Linked DNA regions of Homo sapiens. The protein of the gene in region 4 purifies or fractionates together with the protein of the main gene of each other region. This does not show direct contact. Each region holds a gene or a part of one and is shown on either strand. Other genes may lie near its edges.

What was found.
Region 1: the proteins of GRXCR1 (region 4) and KLHL24 purify together in Homo sapiens (affinity purification with mass spectrometry; one large-scale study listed by BioGRID and IntAct). This does not show direct contact.
Region 2: the proteins of GRXCR1 (region 4) and SCIN purify together in Homo sapiens (affinity purification with mass spectrometry; one large-scale study listed by BioGRID and IntAct). This does not show direct contact.
Region 3: the proteins of GRXCR1 (region 4) and VPS4B purify together in Homo sapiens (affinity purification with mass spectrometry; one large-scale study listed by BioGRID and IntAct). This does not show direct contact.
Region 5: the proteins of GRXCR1 (region 4) and CARNMT1 purify together in Homo sapiens (affinity purification with mass spectrometry; one large-scale study listed by BioGRID and IntAct). This does not show direct contact.
Region 6: the proteins of GRXCR1 (region 4) and PGAM4 purify together in Homo sapiens (affinity purification with mass spectrometry; one large-scale study listed by BioGRID and IntAct). This does not show direct contact.

What each region holds. Positions count from the first base shown.
Region 1 is NC_000003.12:183,642,123-183,645,622, forward strand, and holds part of KLHL24 (kelch-like protein 24), read left to right. Parts: intron 1-784; exon of another isoform or gene 785-1,133; intron 1,134-1,357; 5' UTR 1,358-1,420; intron 1,421-1,963; exon of another isoform or gene 1,964-3,500. UniProt on the Homo sapiens protein: Necessary to maintain the balance between intermediate filament stability and degradation, a process that is essential for skin integrity.
Region 2 is NC_000007.14:12,573,720-12,577,219, forward strand, and holds part of SCIN (scinderin), read left to right. Parts: intron 1-3,500. UniProt on the Homo sapiens protein: Ca(2+)-dependent actin filament-severing protein that has a regulatory function in exocytosis by affecting the organization of the microfilament network underneath the plasma membrane.
Region 3 is NC_000018.10:63,401,977-63,405,476, forward strand, and holds part of VPS4B (vacuolar protein sorting-associated protein 4B), read right to left. Parts: intron 3,060-3,500; exon of another isoform or gene 1,851-3,059; coding exon 1,731-1,850; exon of another isoform or gene 755-1,730; intron 1-754.
Region 4 is NC_000004.12:43,025,213-43,028,712, reverse strand, and holds part of GRXCR1 (glutaredoxin domain-containing cysteine-rich protein 1), read right to left. Parts: intron 1-3,500. UniProt on the Homo sapiens protein: May play a role in actin filament architecture in developing stereocilia of sensory cells.
Region 5 is NC_000009.12:75,018,294-75,021,793, reverse strand, and holds part of CARNMT1 (carnosine N-methyltransferase), read left to right. Parts: intron 1-3,500.
Region 6 is NC_000023.11:77,967,449-77,971,090, forward strand, and holds PGAM4 (phosphoglycerate mutase 4), read right to left. Parts: upstream 2,191-3,642; coding exon 1,426-2,190; 3' UTR 501-1,425; downstream 1-500.

The DNA.
Region 1 (3,500 bases), on a different chromosome or scaffold from region 4:
AATCCAGTATTTGCCAGCCAGTGACAGACATAAACTAGGTTCTTTATAAATGTTTCATGAATTGACCTGCATCCCTGCATTGATTCAGGATCTTATTGTCCATTGGGAAGGAAGATTTACTTAGCTAGGAGTAACAATTCCCAAATTTGCCCTAGTTGCAATATTTTTTTACCAAGGGTACATACAAGTCAGGTTCACTTCTGAAAGTAAGGAAACACAGGATAGCATTCACTTGATGATCATAACACAGTCTGGGTATACATATGTGTTTGTGTGTATACATTTAAAAAAAAGGTCGTTTATATTTGGTTTTGGAATCAACTTTTGAATTTGTCTAAACTTGTTAAGAATTTACAAGTTCTATTTAAAGATATCTGGGCCAGAAACCAGAACCACTTGTGTTTAAATACTATTGCTATTCTGTACACAGCTCAAGGTTCTGGTATTTTCTCTTAAGCATTCCTCTTCTCCCCTTCCACCAAAAAAAAAAAAAAAAAAAAAAAAAAGGAATTGTGCCGAATTAGTTGGTTTCTATGGGGATATGGGGATTAAGTTTCTACAAGATTCAAGGCAGAAGAAATATACATTTATATATTAAAAGATAAAAAAATTATTTGCTAACTCTTAGAATTATTTAATGGCCCCAAACTTGGATGAAACATCAATTTCCAGACACTCTTCAAATATCCAAAGTGTATTCAAATATCACAGAGTGTATGTTTTTTCAGTGCTACCATTAGCTTGCTATTGACATTAATTTTCTTTTACTCATTTTTCACTCAAGAAATTTTACTGCAGGATAAAACTCCAGGATAAAACTGTCAAGTGCCGGGCACGGTGGCTCATGCCTGTAATCCCAGCACTTTGGGAGGCCGAGGCGGGCGGATCACCTGAGGTCGGGAGTTTGAGACCAGCCTGACTAACATGGAGAAACCCTGTCTCTGCTAAAAATACAAAATTAGCTGGGCATGGCGGCACATACGTGTAATCCCAACTACTAGGGAGGCTGAGGCAGGAGAATCGCTTGAACCTGGGAGGCGGAGGTTGCCGTGAGCCGAGATTGCGCCATTGCACTCCAGTCTGGGCAATAAGAGCAAAACTCAGTCTCAAAAAACAAACAAAAAAACTGTCAAGTAAGGAAGTTGATAAATAAGAAAAACTAGTTATGTAAAATAGCATTAAGTTATTAATTTACTTTAAGGAGATGTTATTCACTAATTATTTTTAAACAAAAACGAACTTCAGTTGGAAACTAGAAATTACTAAAAACTTTGTTCAACATATTAGTAAATAATGCCAGCTGTACATGAACTGACAACTATCTGATTTATATGTTGCTATTCTTTCTTTATTTTAGGTGTGGAAATTAAAAGAACACACATATTTTGACTGGGGCTTTGATCAACCAAATGCTAAAAAGGTATATTTGTAATATTTATAAACTATCTAAATGTTGTTATTAGAGAATTTAAACCATATTCCTTTCTTTAACCAGGGATCACTTAAGCCAATCAGATAACAAGGCACAACTCTATCCTTAAGATCACAAAAGATGGCAGTGTGACAATCATTTCTGTTACTAAATATTTACCCACTCTTCTGTGCTTTCCTGAGAGCCTCATTCATGTCTGATCAACTTATATACATTAACTCATGTAGATATAACTTTAAGTCATTATGTTTGTTTGGAAAGAAGCTTTTCCTACTTATTTTGTCTAGAGATGCCTACTTAGTTGTTTACTTTTTCCTGATGGGAATAATTCTGCTGTGATATTTGCAAAAATGTTATAATGGTTCAATCTGTAATCTTACGTTTTGTTTGCTTGATTATGCATCATGAGTTCATTTTGATCAATCTTGAACCTATATTAGTCACCGTACTTTGAGATGATAGGATAACATTTTTCTTTCCTTTTTTTTTTTTTTTTTTTTTTTTTGAGACGGAGTCTTGCTCTGTTTCCAGGCTGGAGTGCAATGGTGCGATCTCGGCTCACTGCAACCTCCGCCTCCCGGGTTCAAGTGATTCTCCTGTCTCCTGGGTTCAAGTGATTCTCCTGCCTCAGCCTCCTGAGTAGCTGGGACTACAGGCGTCCACAACCACGCCCAGCTAATCTTTGTATTACTTTATTGTATAAAATGGGAAGGCAAAAGCTAGCAAATTTCATGTGGAAGCCCAAAAGATACATTCTGAATGCATCTCACACTCCTAAGATGCCCTCCTGCAAATCATTTATACATAGGAAGTGTTTACATTTGGTGTAGTTACGGAGACCAGTAATTGGAGAGTTCCCAGAAAATCCAGAGGAAGTCAAGATGCCCAAAAGTCAGGAGGCAGCAGGCTGAAGCTGTTTGGAAAGATCTATGAGATAGTCTCTCTTACATACAGAGCAGTAAACAAATATCTCATTGCTGTTGAAGACTTTGTAATACAAGGTGATTTTATAGGTGTTCTAGTCCAGGATTTTCCATTTTTTATTGGGTAAAAGTAGTGGAGAGGAAGACCTCTTTTGTCAGTGAACAAATCAAGGAGCCAACTATGAAAATAAGGGGCAGATAATAGCATAAAAAGACAGACCCTTAATTGATACAAAGCTTAATCAATTTTATATTAATACTTAACTCACTGTTCTCAAATTTATCTAATAAATATTAGATAGAATAAAATCATTGAATACATAAAACAAAGTATACTTTTATATTTGTTTTTCTACTTGTCCATTCTAGCCAAAGGGAAATTCTTAGTTCTTACAATGTGCTATTTTGTTTTGTATTCTGAACAAATTTTCATTTAAACATTGAGAAAGTGAAAATGTATGCAGGAAGAAGCTCACGATTTCCATTGTTGTTAATACCAATAATTGTATCACTAGTCAAAGTCACAATCACTTGTGTGAATTTTTTGAACCTGAAATGCAACAGGAATTTAAACTAGATTAAGCTGGAATGAATAGTAGGTTCTTGATTTGGGTACCTGACTTGTAGCTAATTCAACCATAATTTGAATCTAGATTAATAAGGCATTAAGATTAAAATATGAGTTATATTCCATGTCATCACAGTTTATGTTTATCATAATTGAAATGTTCCCTTTTTTAATTACTTGTGATATTACATACATTGAACTTTTTGAAGTTTCACCAACAACAAAAAATTGACATTCAGGTACAGTAGTGATCTCTCTTGATATGGGGGATACATTTCTGTTTATAAAATGGTTATTGAGATAACTTCAAATTAAAAGCATATTTGATAGATACGCTACTGCTCATGTGTGGGAGCCTGGAATTTGGAAGTCATTCTATGCATTGTAAATGGAGTTGTAAATGTTAAGCTGTGTGTATGCACATGCATCCAGACATCCACACAAATATATGGGCAACTGTAACCCAAGTTGGGTGACGTATAATGAAGCAAACATGAACTCTGAGTAATCAGAAAAATCTTAAAAGAGATGGGAAGAAATCCATTTTTTTTTAGTTAGTGATAATAAATTTTAAAAC
Region 2 (3,500 bases), on a different chromosome or scaffold from region 4:
CCCTAACCTAAGGTACAAACACTTATCCTCACTCTTTCTCTTTGCCAGTTTTAAACTTCACACAAATATATTTTAAAGCAGTATACATTTATGTTATAAGTGGGCTATACCAGGCCTTGTGCAATGCCCTGGGAATCCAAAGGATTGGATTACAATATACGATACAAAGAACTTATACGAAGGACTGGCTAGAAACTGGATCATTTACATTGCTGGAGCATGGGGGTGGGTACATGCAATGGTACAGCACTCTGGAAAAGAGTTTAGTAGTTTCTTACAAAACCAAATATACTACTACCATATGAGTCAGCAATTGCATTCATAGGTATTTATTCCAGAAAAATGAAGTTTTGTATTCACATGAAAACCTGTACCTGAATGTCCACAGCAGTTTTATTTGAATAAACAAACACTAGAATCAGCCCAGATGCTTTTCAACAGGTGACTGGTTAAACAAGTTGTACATCTGTACCAACTAATACTACTCAGCAATAAAAAGGAACAAACTATTGATACATACAACAACTTGGATGAAGCTCCAGGGAATCATGCTGAGTGAAAAACCCTAAGAGGCTTTATACTGTATGATCCCATTTATATAAAATTTTTGAAATGACAAAATTTTAGATTTGGCATTGCCGTTGGTTACAGATAGGGTGAAGAGGGGATGATGTGGGCAGGAGAAGAGTGTATTATAAAAGGGCAACTTGAAGGATGTTTTTGGTGGAACTATACAGCATCTTGATTGTGATAGCAGATGTATGAATTTACACATGTGATAAAATTTTATAGAACTAAATGCACACACACACGAGTACAAGTAAAACTGAGAAAATACGAATAAAATAGGTGGATTATATCAATGCCAATATCCTGGTTGTGGTGTTCAGTGCTATACTGTACTATACATTAATATGTTAAGCTATACTGTAATTTTACAAAGTTGCCACTACTGGGGGAAATTGGGTCTATTGATCTGTGTCTATCCTTCAATAGTACCAATCTGTTTTAATCACGTTAGCTATGTAGTAAACCTTAGTATCAGGTAGAGTGATTCCCCCCACTTTATGCTTGTTTGTCAAGATTATTTTAGCTATTCCAGGGCCTGCGCCTCACTATATAAATTTTGCAATAAGCCTGTATATGTCTATAATAAACCTTACTGTGATTTTGGTAAGAATAACATTAGGCCTATAGATCAATTTGTGAAGGATTGACATCATTATTATGTGGAGTCTTAAAATCCATGAACACTAAGCGTTTACATTTACTTAGGTCTTCCTTGATATTTTGAATGCCATTTTGTAATTTTCAGCATACAGATCCTGTACATGTTTTTAAACTATATGCCTGAGTATTTCAGTTTCTTTGGAGTGATTGTCAATAGCATTGCGCCTTTAATTTCAGTTTCAGCATGTTCATTGTTTCTATATAGAAATGTGACTGATTTTTTGTATTACTGATGAATCTTGTATCCTGCTAATTTGCTCAATGTACTTTTTATTTCTAGGAGAGTTTTCTTTTTTTTTTTTGGATAGGTCTCTTAGAGTTCACTATGTAAACAATATTGTTGTCTCTAAATAGAGACCTTTTTATTTCTTCATATTCAATTTGTATGCCTTTTTTTTCTTTTTCTTACTTTATTGCAGTGGTTAGAACTTGCTGTACTATGTTGAATAAGAGTGGTGTGAGTGCACACCCATTTTCTGGATTTTATGGGAAAAACATTTAGTCTTTTACTGTTCAGCATTGCTAGCTCTGTGTTTTTTGTTGACTCTAATTATCGTTGGAAGGTGTTCCTCTCTATTCCTAATTTGACTTATTTTATTTTATCATGAATGGCTGTTGGATTAACCTAGTTTTAAATCTCTCTTTTTATCTATAAAATCATTACATCCACAAAATACTTATAGAAATTCATAGGATGTACACAAGTCTAACATAATATAAAATAACACGGCACAGCATAGTATAACAGAACATAAAAGACACCGGTAAAATCAGTGTAGGGAAACAACAAATGGAAATCATAAGCAGATTCGTAGGGGAAAACTAAACTGATTCTTAAGCAGACTTTATACACAAAGTTCATAAGTTTCTAAATACTTTCTGGAATTCCATCATGCTACAACTGGATTTGATTCTAATTTTCGCATCCAAAGGCTGACATTGGCTTCATCAAGACCGTCAACCTCATTCAGGCATCCTGTTTTATTCATACAGATATTCCCTGGCCAACCACATTACATAAGCATCAGCAAATGATAGGATAATTTAATTAACTTACTTTCAGTTCATTCATTAACTTCATGCCTGTCCATTTACATCTACCTAAAGAGATTCAGGTTTCAACCTGTAGTCAGGTAAGGACGTTTATGTCAAATACATCATCTTTAACACCTTTGATGTTAACCTTGATTCCAAGTTATCTCTTAAAGCATCTCTCTTAAGGCATCATAAAAATCTACATCTACATCTTTATGGTATTCTCAGTTAGGGTTCGGATCCCAAATCGGCAGAAGAATGACACCAGAGTCCTTTCAGATTGCAAAATTGCCGGTGTGTCAAATACTTAACTTTGACCACAGCGAGTTCACAAAATTGTTATCACGTCAAGTAATCTTCTAGCTACTGAGTTGTTTTTTTTTGTTGTTGTTGTTGTTTCCCCTCAGAAGATACTTGGTATATGAGTCTCATTTGAGAGTAAGAGGGAAATTGTAAGGAAATCTGATTCTTTCTTTAATACAACTGACTGATTTGCCTTCTTCAACTTTGGTGAATACTGTCAGTTAGGGTTGTTCATGTGAACTATTAAATTATTACAGCTTCTAAGCTTTTATGCATCAGTTATCTATGGAAGAAATTAACATACCTTGTCACTATAAAATTGTACCGCTAATGAGAGCCTGAGTACAAAAAAATACCCACAAGTGTACTGGAGTTTTTAAGAACCTGTGCTTCAGAGTCACACAAACCTACATCTGGTCTTTTTCTCCCAAAAGTTGCTTTATGACCTCAGAAAAGTTACCCAGCCTCTCTAAGCCTCCATTTTCTCTGTTCCAATCTAGTAGAAAATAGGTTCTGCTTTATGAGGTTGCTTGAAGATTAAATGAGATCATCCATGTAAAACATTGGCATAGTGTCTGGCCCATAGGGGTAGTATAAATGTATAATGTTGGCTATTATTATTTCTAGAGTCATTTAAGATTTTTATTACAGCTTGGATGTAGTAAAGAGTTTGAAGTGTTTTCCATAAAATGTGAGTGCCCCTCCTGACTGTCCGTACTGTATCCTTTATGTACACTACAGACACTGGTTCTTAGGAATTGTTTTGACCTTAGTGAAGTTACCTGGATGTGATGTGTATTACAATTGTGAAAATTAAATGTATGTTGTATGTAAAATACCTGGAACAATACCAAGTACATTAACACTTAATAAATGTTAGCGTGCTGCTTCCTTTGCTCTTCCTTTCCTCCAGAGATCATTATTTCATTCAA
Region 3 (3,500 bases), on a different chromosome or scaffold from region 4:
GAGTGAAACTCTGTCTCAAAAAAAGAAACAAAACAAAACAAAACAAAAAAAACTGCTAGGTGCAAACTATGGATGTGTACACAGTATCTGCAAAAGAATGATATGCAGATGAATAACACTGTTTCACTTAACTGTTATGAAAGCAACTGTTACTTGAATTTCATTTTCCTATTTTACATGTATACATTTACAAGTCAGTGTCTGAGTATGGTACATATACCACTGGTATAACATGAAGTACTTTTAGGTGGTATATACTTTAAATAATTTTTTAATGTGTATTGGAAAAACACTTTTTTTTCCACTTATAAAGGCACAAAGCAGTCTTTTCAATAACGTTACTAAGTAAAAATATGTGAGATGATTTAAAGTTCAAATACAGGCAAAATAATCTCTGGCGTTAGAAGTCGAGAGAGAGAGATGACCTCTCGGGAGGAATGAGGCAGAAGGCTCCTGCCAGGTCCCTGGCAATGCTGTTATTTCTGGATCTGGTTGATGACACTGGCATGCTTGCTTTGTGACAATTAAGGAAGCCCAACACCCAGGGGCTCCTGTATGTCTCTGTATATTTATGCTATACTCTAGTAAAAATGTTGTTCTAAAAAATAAGCAAAGAAAAATATTAAAAATTAGTAATGGTACACATACATGGAAAAATTCATGAAGATGATACATCAATGACTCATGTTTGAGAAAAAGTGGTATAAGTAATATACCATAAAATGAGTTCAACCATATTTTTGTGCTTTTATAGGATTATGATGTCAACTTTTATGCTGTTAAGTTTCATACTCCTGAAGTTGGGTAGTAAACTGCACCTTGAAGCTAGGCGGACAGTGCGTGGCCTACAGGCTTTTTGCTCTTCATCACTGCTCTATACGATACGACTGTCTGGACTCTTCAGTCTGAGGCCAACATTGCAGATTTGCTGTTGACATAAACCAACATGTTTGCAAAAGGAAAAACCTCTGACTGTCAGACTGTGGGTGTGGCCATATTACAGTCAAGGCTATCAGTCACAAGAAGGATAATATAAAGGAATGGTTTAGCACAGACATATCACTTACTGCTGGAACTAGAACTTGTAAGTTTCCCCAGATGGTAGGTCAGCAATATTCTCTTCACAGTGATAATGAAATGTCCTTTTGCTACTAGAGGTTATGCACTTCCTCTGAAACTGTTAAGTGATTCTTACTCCTCTTTTTAAGAAATACTCTTTAAAAATCATAACCATTGCAAAAATTCAGATGAAAGTCAAAAGTAAAAATCTCCTATAATCTTATCCCCTAGGCATATATTAATATTTCTATGTGAATCTAACTATACTTACTTCTCAGCATACACATTTAGCAAACATGGAATCATACTATTCAGTTTATAACTGCTTTTTGATCTTTGCAATAGATGTGGACATTCTTCAATAAAATACAATGCAGATTTCAATTTATTAATGTAGATGTACACTCTATTTTACTGAGTGCATAGTATTCCACTGCATGTTGGTGAATTACCCTACTGGTTGACATTTAGGTTGTTTTGCAATATATATACACTGCAAATATGGATATGTATAAGAAATAAAACATCTTGTATAAAGATATATCACCACCTTTTAACAGTCACAATTTATTTAAGATAATTCATTAGTGACAAGAATGACAATGCTTCACCTCAGTCATCAATGAACTTTTACAAACTCATGAAATAAAATTATTTAAAAGTTATGTCACCTGTAAAAAGATGAGGAAATTTAATAGGCAGTATCACAGCCTCTTTCAGTGCTTCTTTGGCTCCTTCAAGTCCAGCAACGTCACTCCATTTCACATTTGGTCGTTCTATAACAATGGCACCTGCAAAAAATTACGTTATCTTTAAATTAAGAAAGACTATTTCACCAAAGTTAGAAGACAACATGAAATAATGATGTTAAAGAAACGCATTATAAAATTGGGAAAGTTTTATGTACTAACAACCTTTTTGAAATAGCGTGAGCAGGAAGCAGGTGTTAGGGAGTAGTCAATAGGACTAGGAACCAGGTGGATGACTAGACAACCTGGGGCATGTTACTTTACCCTTCTGTTTCAGCTTCCTCACTTGTGAAATGAAAATAATACCATCTGCCCAAACTACTTAGATAGGTTGGTGCGAAAATCAAATGACATAATGAATATTAGAGTGTTTGGAAAAGCACCAAACGTTCCATAAGGTGGTTATATTTGAATACATTGATTTTGGAGTATCAAAAGTACTTGTTCTACCATTTCTCCTGTTAACCAAAAGAAAAGGTGATCTAATCCTCTCCTCAACCACTGAAAAAAAAAATATGCTTAACAAATTTAACTCAAGATAGGCAGACAGACAGAAGGGAGAAGGAAAAGGAGAGAGGAAAGGAAGGAATGGAAGCAGATGATGGGAAACCGAGAAAAGATACCCCTGCAGATTTGCAATACTTTCCTAAGATTTGCCCAAGTTTCTATTTGGCTGCTAAATAGATCTATTTACAACTTTTGTTAATTAACAAAGTTAACTTACAGGGAAGATTTAGCTTCTGAATGCAGTATATTCAAAAGCCAAAGCAATTATTGCAGTAAGAGTCCAAGAAGGATGTCTTTTAATATAGCCTACTGACAAATTTTCTAGTTCTCTTTTATCAAAAGCTTTTCTAATTTTCTAGAATATGGAAACTGTTCCACTATAAACTATGAAGCAGCCTGTTCTAAGATGACATGTAGTTAGTTGTTTTAAGTGTAACAGAACACCACCACTTATACAATCTATTACTTTATGAAATCACTGCTACTGATTGTTTCTTCTTGTTAGGAAAGATAATCTGTTACTCTAAGACTAGTTACTAGCAACTTACTTCCCTAAATTATGAAAATCTTTAGCTACTAGATTAAAATTACATGAAACCATAAGCATTTTGTATTCCAAAAGTTCAGACTACTATAAAGTAAGAAAAAAGTAAATTCATTTCGTCTTTTTTATGTTTCATTAAGATTAGTAATCCTAGGATTTCATGTCAGTTAAACAAAAATAAACTTTATTTTATATATGTATACCGTCTGACTCAAGATTTCTGCTATAAATTTTAAAAATGTGTCATGATTTGTTTTCATATATAATACTTCTAAGTTAAAAGGTGACTTTGGAATGTTTACTGATAAACAATCTCATACTAGACATGGTTTGCAAAATTAAAAAGGGGGGATGGGATTATGAAAAATGCTAACAAATGGAATGTACTTCCAATGATATAAATTTATCCGGTCTTTGACTATACTATTTACTAGTATATTACTTAATCACAAAAAATTCACTGAATAAAATTAGCTAACAGAAAACTCAAATCACAAACCGATTTTTAATTTTAACAAATATACACTTAATATCATAATCTAAAACAGAAGTAAAAGATTTAAAATACTGTTCAAAAAACAAGGAAAAATTCAAAAAAGATACAATAGTATGAAATCCAGCAGCAAACCATTAAAAAGTAG
Region 4 (3,500 bases):
ACTTTGAGTAAAAACAAACCCAATGATGGAAAAATAGTGTACTTTAAAAGCTAAATATGAGAAAATTCCTAAGTAGTGGAGTTCTTATCAAATACTAGAAAGAATATAATGTAGATAGATCCTTGTCATTCACTATTGCTATGACATTAAATATGCTAAAAATATTTAATGACTTGTACAACAAGTGCATCAAGTCAGAATAAATGCTGGGCTGGCCAAGGTCCTACAGTAAGGACCTGCAGGGACCCTGAGTCCAGCCCTTTACTCATTACTGCTAGATTGTAAATAGATCTGAGTTCCTAGTAAAGTAGAGTTGTCAGATTTTGCAAATAAAAATACAGGACGCTCAGTTAAATTTGAATTTCAGATAGACCACAAATAATTTTTGTTTAAGTATGTACTAAATATTGTATGAGACATACTTAAGCTAGAAAATTATTTATAATTTATCTGATATTTAAATGTAAGTGGGCATCCTGCATTGTATCTGGCAAAATTTATAGGTTAGAGTTGACATAGAAGAAAAGAGATATTAATCCATCTTGGGCAATGGCTATTTACCAACCGTATAAATTATTTCAACATCTCTTTTTTTTTTTTTGAGACGGAGTCTCACTCTGTTACCCAGGCTGGAGTGCAGTGGTGCGACCTCAGCAGCTCACTGCAACCTCCTCCTCCCAGGTTCAAGTGATTCTCCTGCCTCAGCCTCCCAAGAAGCTGGGATTACAGGTGCATGTCACCACGCCTGGCTAATTTTTGTATTTTTAGTAGAGATGGGGTTTCACCATGTTGGTCAGGCTGGTCACAAACTCCTAACTCAAGTGATCCACCCACCTCGGCCTCCCAAAGTGCTGGGATTACAGGCATAAGCCACCATACCTGGACCAATTATTTCAATATCTTAATGAGTACAAACATATTTCAATATTTTCAATAACCACAACTGCTGTACCAGTGCACACTAGGTGAATATCAACTCCTGCTATGACCCAAGACACTTGTGAATGACCATATTCTTGAATAGCCATATGGTTTTCTCATGAAATATATTTGTGACTACAAGCAAAGAACAACAAAGCTGGAATGAAATGTTAGTGCTATGCAGCTTTCTGAGCTCCTTGTCTATGTGTGGCACTTCAGACACCAGGCTCTGAGCACACAAAATTCAAAATAGTAACTCAACACAATTAAAAATTATTTTACATAATGGGCCTACAACATCACTTACAAATATTACTTTCAAAGGCTAAAATATCAAATGTTAAATTCACTAATACCAAGAGTCTACTGTTTCTTCATAATTTATCCCCTTGTCAGAACAAATTTCCTAAAATAAACTTAATATATAAATACCAAAGCTACATTTTTATTTCTAAAAATAATCACAAATACAACAAGGCCATTCTAAAATAGGATCCTCAGAGTCTGCAATTCTGTGATTAGATCTCTCTTTCATTCAAAGGATTGTTGAGAGGATTCAATGAACTAATTCATGGGAGGTGAACAGCACATTGCCTGACACATAGTAGGCACTCAATACAGTTAGTTATTATTAGCCATTATTTTATTAATAAATTCCTATTGAAATGATTTTTATTAACTGCTACCTTAAGCTAAACTGCTTGTGGTCACATGACACAACCATTTTCTACACTTCTAAGAGTCATTCAATTTAAACACTTGTTCCATACTTCGCCTTCTGGTTTAAGGTTTTGCCACTGTAAGAAAGGGAGAGTAAATGTGTTTCAATTCATGTGCTATTTCTGTTGTCTTGGAGAATAGTGCTGGAAAGATTCTCGGGCTACTTCCATTCTCAGGAAAAATTAGCTATTTCAGCCATAAACGTAAGAGAGGAAAGGGATGGCTTATATCTTGTGTGGAGGAGTCTTTGCCCCCTTCTCACACCAACCTGATGTGATAGACACCACCGTTTTACAAATGAGGAAACACAGCCTCTAAGCTGGTTTTTAAAAAGTAATTATCAAGTTATAACTAGAAAGTGGAATATTGAAGAGGTCTCTTTATGAGCAAAATCTATGGTCTTCCCTCTATGATAGTAGTTTTCAATGTTTATTTGCATCCGTTTTTTCCCAAATTATCTAAACATGAGATCCCCAAATGTAAAGCAGTTGAAAGGATAAACGCTATGACTAAAGCCAAAGTGGTGGTGAGGTGGGTGGGTCTTCAGGCAACCCACTAAAGCTCCCCAGTGACCCCTCAGCACCCAGGAATCTCATTCTTGCTTGAGGCAACCCACTAAAGCTCCCCAGTGCCCCCTCAGCACCCAGGAATCTCATTCTTGCTACATCTTCCAGCACAATTTATGCTATTTATTATTCTAATAAGAATAAATAATTTAGTCATGCCTAGCCATGTCTTTCAAAGAGCAATTTGTTATACTGGAAGTCTGGTCCTAATTTAGAGGGTTCTGTACAAAGAAAACCCAGTTGGGTTATATTGGATGCTCTTATATTAGTGTTGCTCTGAAGTCTAACCCTTCTGTAGACAGTTTTGCCCACAGATCAAGATAGAAAAAGAGCTAGGAATTTCCCAAAGAACACGGACAAAGTTTGGAGTTGGAGGAATAACTGAATAACTGAAGTTGATGAAACAGACTTCTACTTTACTAATAATATTACTAATTATTAGTAACATTACAACTAGTAACAAAACAGGCTTCATTACTATTAGTAACTATTAGTAAAAATACTGACTTCCACTTTTTTTTTTTTTTTTTGAGACGGAGTTTCGCTCTGTTTCCCAGGCTGGAGTGCAGTGGCACGATCTCAGCTCACTGCAAGCTCTGCCTCCCTGGTTCACGCCATTCTCCTGCCTCAGCCTCCCGAGTAGCTGGGACTACAGGCGCCCACCACCCTGCCCGGCTAATTTTTTGTATTTTTAGTAGAGACGGGGTTTCACCGTGTTAGCCAGGATGGTCTCGATCTCTTGCCCTGGTGATCCGCCCGCCTTGGCCTCCCAAAGTGCTGGGATTACAGGCGTGAGCCACCGCGCCCGGCCCTGACTTCCACTTTCAATGAAGAGATTGACTGCTGCGGAAACGTTGACCTGCAAGCAATTAAGAATCCAGGCAGACCTGGTTGAGAATAGCACACAGAGTACTGAATCTACAGACTGTGTCTCCTCTCCTCTGAATAGTGGTTTGGGTTGAGACAAGTCACTTTGGAGTGGAGCTCAAGAGAAAAAGAATGAGAAATCACCCTCCACTTTACCTCTTTCTGTTCATTTATTCCTGTGAGTGAGTTTTAAAAGATAGATACTCAGTGAGTGAGACCTTTTACTTATTCATTCCATTCCACAAATATATATTGAGTATTCACTAGCCAGGCACTGTGTAAGGCAATGGGAATATAGCAGTAAACCAGACACTTCTCTGCTTTCCTAGTAGTACATCTCAGCCTCACCCCTGAGTCTTGGATAGGTCTGCTCCATATTGCAGTCATCTCAACTAAAGCACACGAAATGTATTGTGTCTCTAACAA
Region 5 (3,500 bases), on a different chromosome or scaffold from region 4:
GCTCATTTTGTTTTTTTATTTTTTTGTAGAGAGGATGGTCTTGCTATATTGCCCAGGCCGGTTTTGAACACCTGGCCTCAAACAGGCTTCCCACCTTGGCCTCCCAAAATACTGGGATTACTGGCATGAGCCACTGCAACTTTGTGTTAAGCAAAACGGAAATGTGCCAAAAGGTTAGAAGTGGTTCCCTCTAGAAGAGGAATTATTAGGCCTTCTTTCCTGAGTACTTCTAATTTCTACATTGTTCATGCTTTGAACATTTTAGTAATATAAATGAGATATACCTACTCCTTTTTTGAACAGTAGATATATATATATAGTATATATATTTATCCTATATATACTATTTATATTATATATACTATTTATACTATATATAGTATGTATATAGTATATATACTGTATATAGTAGATATATACTATGTATATAATATATATGGTATGTATAGTAGTATATATACTATATATAATATATATGGTATGTATATAGTAGTATATATACTATGTATATACTATGTATATATACATATATACTATGTATATACTATGTATATATACTCTATATAGTATATTGAACAGTAGGTATATATATAGTATATATATTTTGAGCGCTTGCTGTGTTTTCAGCTGTTGGGCTAAATCTTTTGAGTACGTTATTTTTCCAATGAAACCCTGTCTGCTAGGCAGAGGAAGGTAATGCTACCTACCTAATTATGAAGATCTTTCAGAATAATCCGTATTAACTGACTTGGTTTAGTCCCTGGTATTTATTAAATCTCAAATGGCAGCTTCCATGATCATCATCATTGTTCATTCTTATCTTGCTTCTGTATATGAGAGAGTTGGACAAAGGAAGGCGGTAATTTGCCTGGTGTCATGTGGCAAATAGGTGTCATAACCTGGATTTCATCCCTGATCTTTCTGACTTCAAAGCTCATTATTATACTCTCCCCAGAGGGGCATGTCAGTGGAGCTTCTGACAACTTGATCTCTTCACCTTATCCCTAAGGGCCCCCCACACCAAGCCACCAAACACAAGCTTGTAAAAACGCGACCAGCCAGGTTTTTGGTTGTTTGTCAGGAGCTTCTTCTGAAGTTCATTACTGTTTGGCAGTTGGAATAATTTGGCAGAGGGTAAAAATAAGAAAATTGTTTGGATGAATGAAGATTTAAGAAACCAAATGACAAAGATATTGAAAATGAAAGTGAAATTGAAAATGAAAATGAAGGCTGGGTGCGGTGGCTCACGCCTATAATCCCAGCACTTTGGAAGGCGGAGGCAGGCAGATCACGAGGTCAAGAGATCGAGACCATCCTGGACAGTATGGTGAAACCCCGTCTCTACTAAAAATACAAAAATCAGCTGGGCATGGTGGCGCGCACCTGTAGTCCCAGCTACTCGGGAGGCTGAGGCAGGAGAGTCGCTTGAACCTGGGAGGGGGAGGTTGCAGTGAGCTGAGATCGTGCTACTGCATTCCAGCCTGGGCAACAGAGCAAGACTCCATCTCAAAAAAAAAAAAAAAAAAGAAGAAAAATGAAATAGAAAATGAAAAATACTTCCATTTTCATTTAATATTGAATTAATACCAAAGAACATTTAAACATATACACATACATATATAGATATAAAATGTAAGGAATATTACAGTGAACACTTATAAATCACCTAGTTTTTAAAACACATTATCCTGTCTCTTTCACCCTCAGAATCATTAACCTGAATTTTTACTTCTTTGCTTTCTGTGTAGTTTTTCCACATATGCTCAGTCCCTAAATAATATTTAGTTTTCTATGAAATGCAATTGTACATTATGTATTTTACTGCAATTGTTTTCAACAAATGTATATGTTCTTGAGGTTATCCAGATGGTGATGGGAGTAACCAATTTCTGCCAAAATATATTTAGAGGTTTGTTCTGGGCCAATATGATAGTGACTGCAGCCTGTGGTTACACGATCTCAAACAACCCTGACAAAGTGCACCCCAGGTGGTCAGGTTACAGCTTGGTTTTATACATTTTAGATACAGGAATTACATGCAAGGTATACATTGATCTCACTCAAAAGGTAGGACATCTTAAAGAGGGGGTTACAAGTCATAGGTGGGTTTTAAGGATTCTTCAGCTGGTAGTTGGTTGATAGAGGTAAGCTATGGTAAGTAGAAAGGAATGCTTGAGTTAAGGGGCTTGTGAAGGCCAAGGTTCTTGTTAAGTTAATTGAAGCCTCCTAGGTAGCAGCCCTCAGAGGGAAGAGATACTAAATGTCACTTTTTAGACTTTAATGTTATCAGGCTCTCAGTTAATCTCTCCTGGATCCAGGAAAGGCCTAGAAAGGAAGGCCTGGTTGCATTAATGGAGATTCTTGACAGATGCATATTTCCCCTAGGAAACATGGCTTTGTGGGGCCATTGAAATCCGTTGGCCATGTGGCAGCCATTTCAAAATGTCAAATATATTTTGGGGTAAAATATTCTGATTTCCTTCTGAGTCTGCTATTTGTCATAAGATGCCATACCAGAGTCAGGTTGGAAAGTAAGTCGTATTATATAGGGTTAATAAAAACCTGTCCAGTGAGATTTCGTAATTAGTAAGGCATGACTCCCCAGGCCTCTTAGTGAAGAACTTGGAGAAGAGAGAAAATATAAAAAAGATCAGCGTTTAGTCTTCACATATTATTGTATGAGCTGTAATTTACTCATTTCGCTGCATTCCACTGTATAACTATACTGTAATTTCTTCATTCTATAGTAACTATATGATAATTTCTGATAGTAGACCTTTGGGTTGTTTCCAGATATTTTATTCCTTTTTTTTTTTTTTTTTTTTATGAGATGGAGTCTCACTCTGTCGCCCAGGCTGGAACGCAGTGGTGCAATCTCGGCTCACTGCAGCCTCTGCCTCCCGCGTTCAAGCGATTCTCCTGCCTCAGCCTTCCAAGTAGCTGGGATTACTGGTGGGCGCCACCATGCCCAGCCAATTTTTATATTTTAGTAGAGATGGGGTTTCACCGTGTTGGCCAGGCTGGTCTTGAACTTCTGACCTCAAGTGATCCGCCCACATTGGCCTCCCAAAGTGCCAAGGGATTACAGGGATGAGCCACTGCGCCCACCTGTTTCTTATCTCTAACAGTGCTATGACAAAGATTGTTCATGTTTCATGGGGCCCATTTGCAAGAGTTTCTAGGATATAATTGCTAGGTCATAAGGCAAGTACCATGCTAAGTTGTACTAGGTAATGCTCTAAATTTAATTTTCCAAAGTGGTTGCGCTGATGTATGCACTTACCATTAGTGTGTAAATGTCCTAATTACACCATATTTTCACCAATCACCAAAATTTGATATAGTCAGGATTTTAAATTTTGGCCATCTTGTCAATATAAAAATGATATACTGTGAGTATATATTTAACTTTAAAAAATGATGTTCTTATGGCCAGGCATGGTGGCTCATGTCTGTAATCCCAGTACTTTGGGCGACCAGGGCAGGCAGATTGCTTGAGC
Region 6 (3,642 bases), on a different chromosome or scaffold from region 4:
CTGGTGTGAGATGGTATCTCATTGTGGTTTTGATTTGCATTTCTCTGATGATCTGTGATGTTGAGCTTTTTTTCATATGTTTGTTGGCCGCATAAATGTCTTCTTTTGAGAAATGTCTATTCATATCCTTTGCCCACTTTTTGATGGGGTTGTTTTTTTCTTGTAAATTGTTTAAGTTCCTTGTAGATTCTGGATATTAGACCTTTGTCAGATGGGTAGATTGCAAAATGTTTTCTCCCATTCTGTAGGTTAAAAGGCTGAATTTTATAGCATGTGAATTATATCCCAATTTAAAAAAGAATGCATATGTCTTAGTTCAGGCTTCCATAACATAATACCATAGACTGGGTGGTCTAATTGTTCAAAGCTCCACAGAAATTAGTTGGAGAAGTTACAAGAGTCCATTAATCATCTTGCTTTGTTAGTAGCAGCGGGCATGGTTCAGCATTTTCTGCTTAAGTTTCTCTGAGCTCACCAAAACTAAAATGATGTTGTAATACTTTTTTTTTTTAATTGCACATCACTCCTTTATTATACTGATCTGGTAAAAGGATTTAGTACAGTTATGCTCAGATGAACACTGGGCCCATGTGGCAGGGTCAAGCAACTAGAACATGATTCAGAAATCAGTGAAAGACACACTTGGACAGGACCAAGAGGCATTTCACTGCCATGAAACAAGGCAGGAAGGGATTCTAATACACACACCAGGAAGCACTCCTGCCCCTCAGAGGTCAAGGAGCTGATCCTATATTGGTATGAGGAATGGCTTATTTTCTGATGACCACATGTGGGACTATTTCAACCGCCACAAGAAACCCCAGAAGGGTTATTGTTTTGTATTATTAATATATACTATACTTTTTTAATAAAAGTAAATATAACACATAACGAAATTCAGGATTGATCCCAACCTAGAGCCAGATCCTCTGGGGTCAAGGAGGAAACAGTTGTCACATCACCATGCAGATTACATTCATCTTCCACTGGAATGACTAGAGCCCCCAGGCAGTGGCCTGACTGCAGAAGAGCAGAGGACAGACTCTGCTCATGGGGACAGACAGGCTCTGTTGCTTCTCCTCATTGGTCGTGGCTTAGCATGTTCCTCCCCAAAGTCCTTAGTAAACAAAGCACTCACAAAAACCCAAGTCACTACTTTTAAACTCTGTTGGATAAGGGGAGCTTTTCCACAGCTTAGACTGAGAACCTGTGCTCTAGAACTGCTATTCTGACTAGATTGTATGAAGGGAGTGGGTGCAGGCGACAAAATGGCTAAAATGAAAATGGGAGCCACTGGTCCCCATCTGCAGCTACAACTCAAGATGTCTACAGATGTGGTCAGTGTGACATGTGCAGGTGGGAGGGGCAGAGGGACAAGACCAGCAGGGAGGGTGCTCCTGGGGACAGTATCCTCCCCGCTGGCCTTCACTTCTTGGCCTTGCCCTGGGCAGCCACAGCTTCTATGGCTTTGCACACCGTCTCTTCATCCCCCAGAAACTGCATGGGCTTGATAGGCTTCAAGTTCTTGTCCAATTCATAGACGATGGGAATACCAGTCGGCAGGTTCAGCTCCATGATAGCCTCTTCAGAGAGACCCTCCACATGCTTGGCAATGCCCTGGAGGCTGTTGCCATGGGCTGCAATCAGTACACGTTTCCCCTCCTTGATCTGGGGAACTATTTCTTCATTCCAGAAGGGCAGAGCTCTGGCAATAGTATCCTTCGGACTCTCATAGGAGGGTAGCTGATCTTCTGTGAGGTCTGCATACCTGCGATCCTTACTGATGTTGCTGTAGAAAGGATGGTCGGGCTCCATCGGAGGTGGTGGGACATCATAGGAGCGCCTCCAGATCTTCACCTGGGCCTCACCATGCTTTGCAGCAGTTTCTGCTTTATTGAGACCGGTTAGACCCCCATAGTGCCGCTCATTGAGGCGCCAAGTCCTCACCACTGGCAGCCACATCTGATCAATGGCATCTAGCACTGTCCAGAGGGTCCGGATCACTCTCTTCTGCACTGAGGTGAGGCAGATGTCAAACTCATAGCCAGCATCTCGTAGCGCCTGCCCGCCGCGCTTCGCCTCCTCGTGGCCCGCCGGGCTCAGATCGGCGTCGTACCAGCAGCTGAAGCGGTTCTCCAGGTTCCATGTGCTCTCGCCGTGCCGGATCAGCACCAGTTTGTAGGCGGCCATGGCGGTGGGCTGCAATACTTTTTATACCATTTGAAGTAAAAGGTACAAAAGGTTATACGCTGAAAATTCTTTTTCCCACCCTTATTCCCTAACCACTCATTTCCCCTCACCAGAGGAACCACTGTTTCCATGGGATATATTAGATTGATTTATATGAAATTGCCGGTGTTTGACTATGATGATTTCATGTGGTTCAGCCTAATATCAGTGAAAAAACAGAGTCCTATCTTCATGGAGTTTTTATTCTAGTGGGAAGTGTATTACTTAATTATTGCAGTGTAACAAATAACCCCAAAATTTAGTGGCTTAAAGCAACAAACATTTATTATCTCACATTTCCTATGACTCAATAATTTGGGAGCAGCTTAGATGGGTAGTTCTGGCTCAGGGTGTCTCATGAAGTTGTAGTCAATATGGTGTCTGGGGATGTAGTAGTTTAAAGGCTTAACTTAGGTCTGAAGGAGCAGTTTCCAAGGTGGTTCACTTACCTGGCTATTGGCGGGAGGCCTTAGGTCTTTGCTGGTTTTTGACATGAGGCCTCAGTTCCTCACCATATGAACCTCTCCATAAGGCTGCTTGTATGTCTTCATACTTGGTAGGTGGCTTCCCCCAGATTGCGTGATTCAGGAGAGAGGACAACAAGGAAAACACAATGCTTTTTTCTCCTCTTGCAATGTTTTTTATGACCTAGTCTTGGAAGTCACACCTTGTCGCTTCTACCGTAGTCTATTCATTAGAAACAAGTCATTAGGCCAGGTGTGGTGGCTCATGCCTGTAATCCCAGCACTTTGGGAGGGCGAGGCGGGTGGATCACTTGAGGTCAGGTGTTCGAGACCAGCCTAGTCAACATGGTGAAACCTTGTCTCTACTTAAAATACAAAAAATTAGCCGGGTGTGGTGGCATGCGCCCGTAATCTCAGGTACTGGGGAGGCTGATGCAGGAGAATCACTTCAACCCGGGAGGCGGAAGTTGCAGTGAACTGAGATCGTGCCACAGCACTCCAGCCTGCGAGACAGAATTGAGTCTCAAAAACAAAAACAAAAACAAAAACCAAAACAACAACAACAACAAAAAACAAGAAACAAGTCATTAAGTTCAGGCCACACCGAAGGGGAAAGGATTAAATTCCACCTCTTGAAGGAAGGAGTAGCAAAGAATTTGTGGGCGTATTTTAAAACCACCACAGGAAGGCAGACAATAAGCAATAAACAGAATAAATCAGCAAGTTATGGAGTATGTTAGAAGGTGGTACGTTCTATGAAAACAAAAGAAAAAGCAGAGGTAAGGGGAATCAGAGTATGTTTGTGTGGAAGGGATGTAGGTTGCAGTTTTAAATAGGGTGGTCAGCATAGTCCTCATTAAGGTTAGATTTGAACAAAGACTTGGAGACAAAGAAGTTAGCCAAGCAGTTATCTGGAAGAAGAAAGTCCCAAAGCAAGAGAATAGCTAAA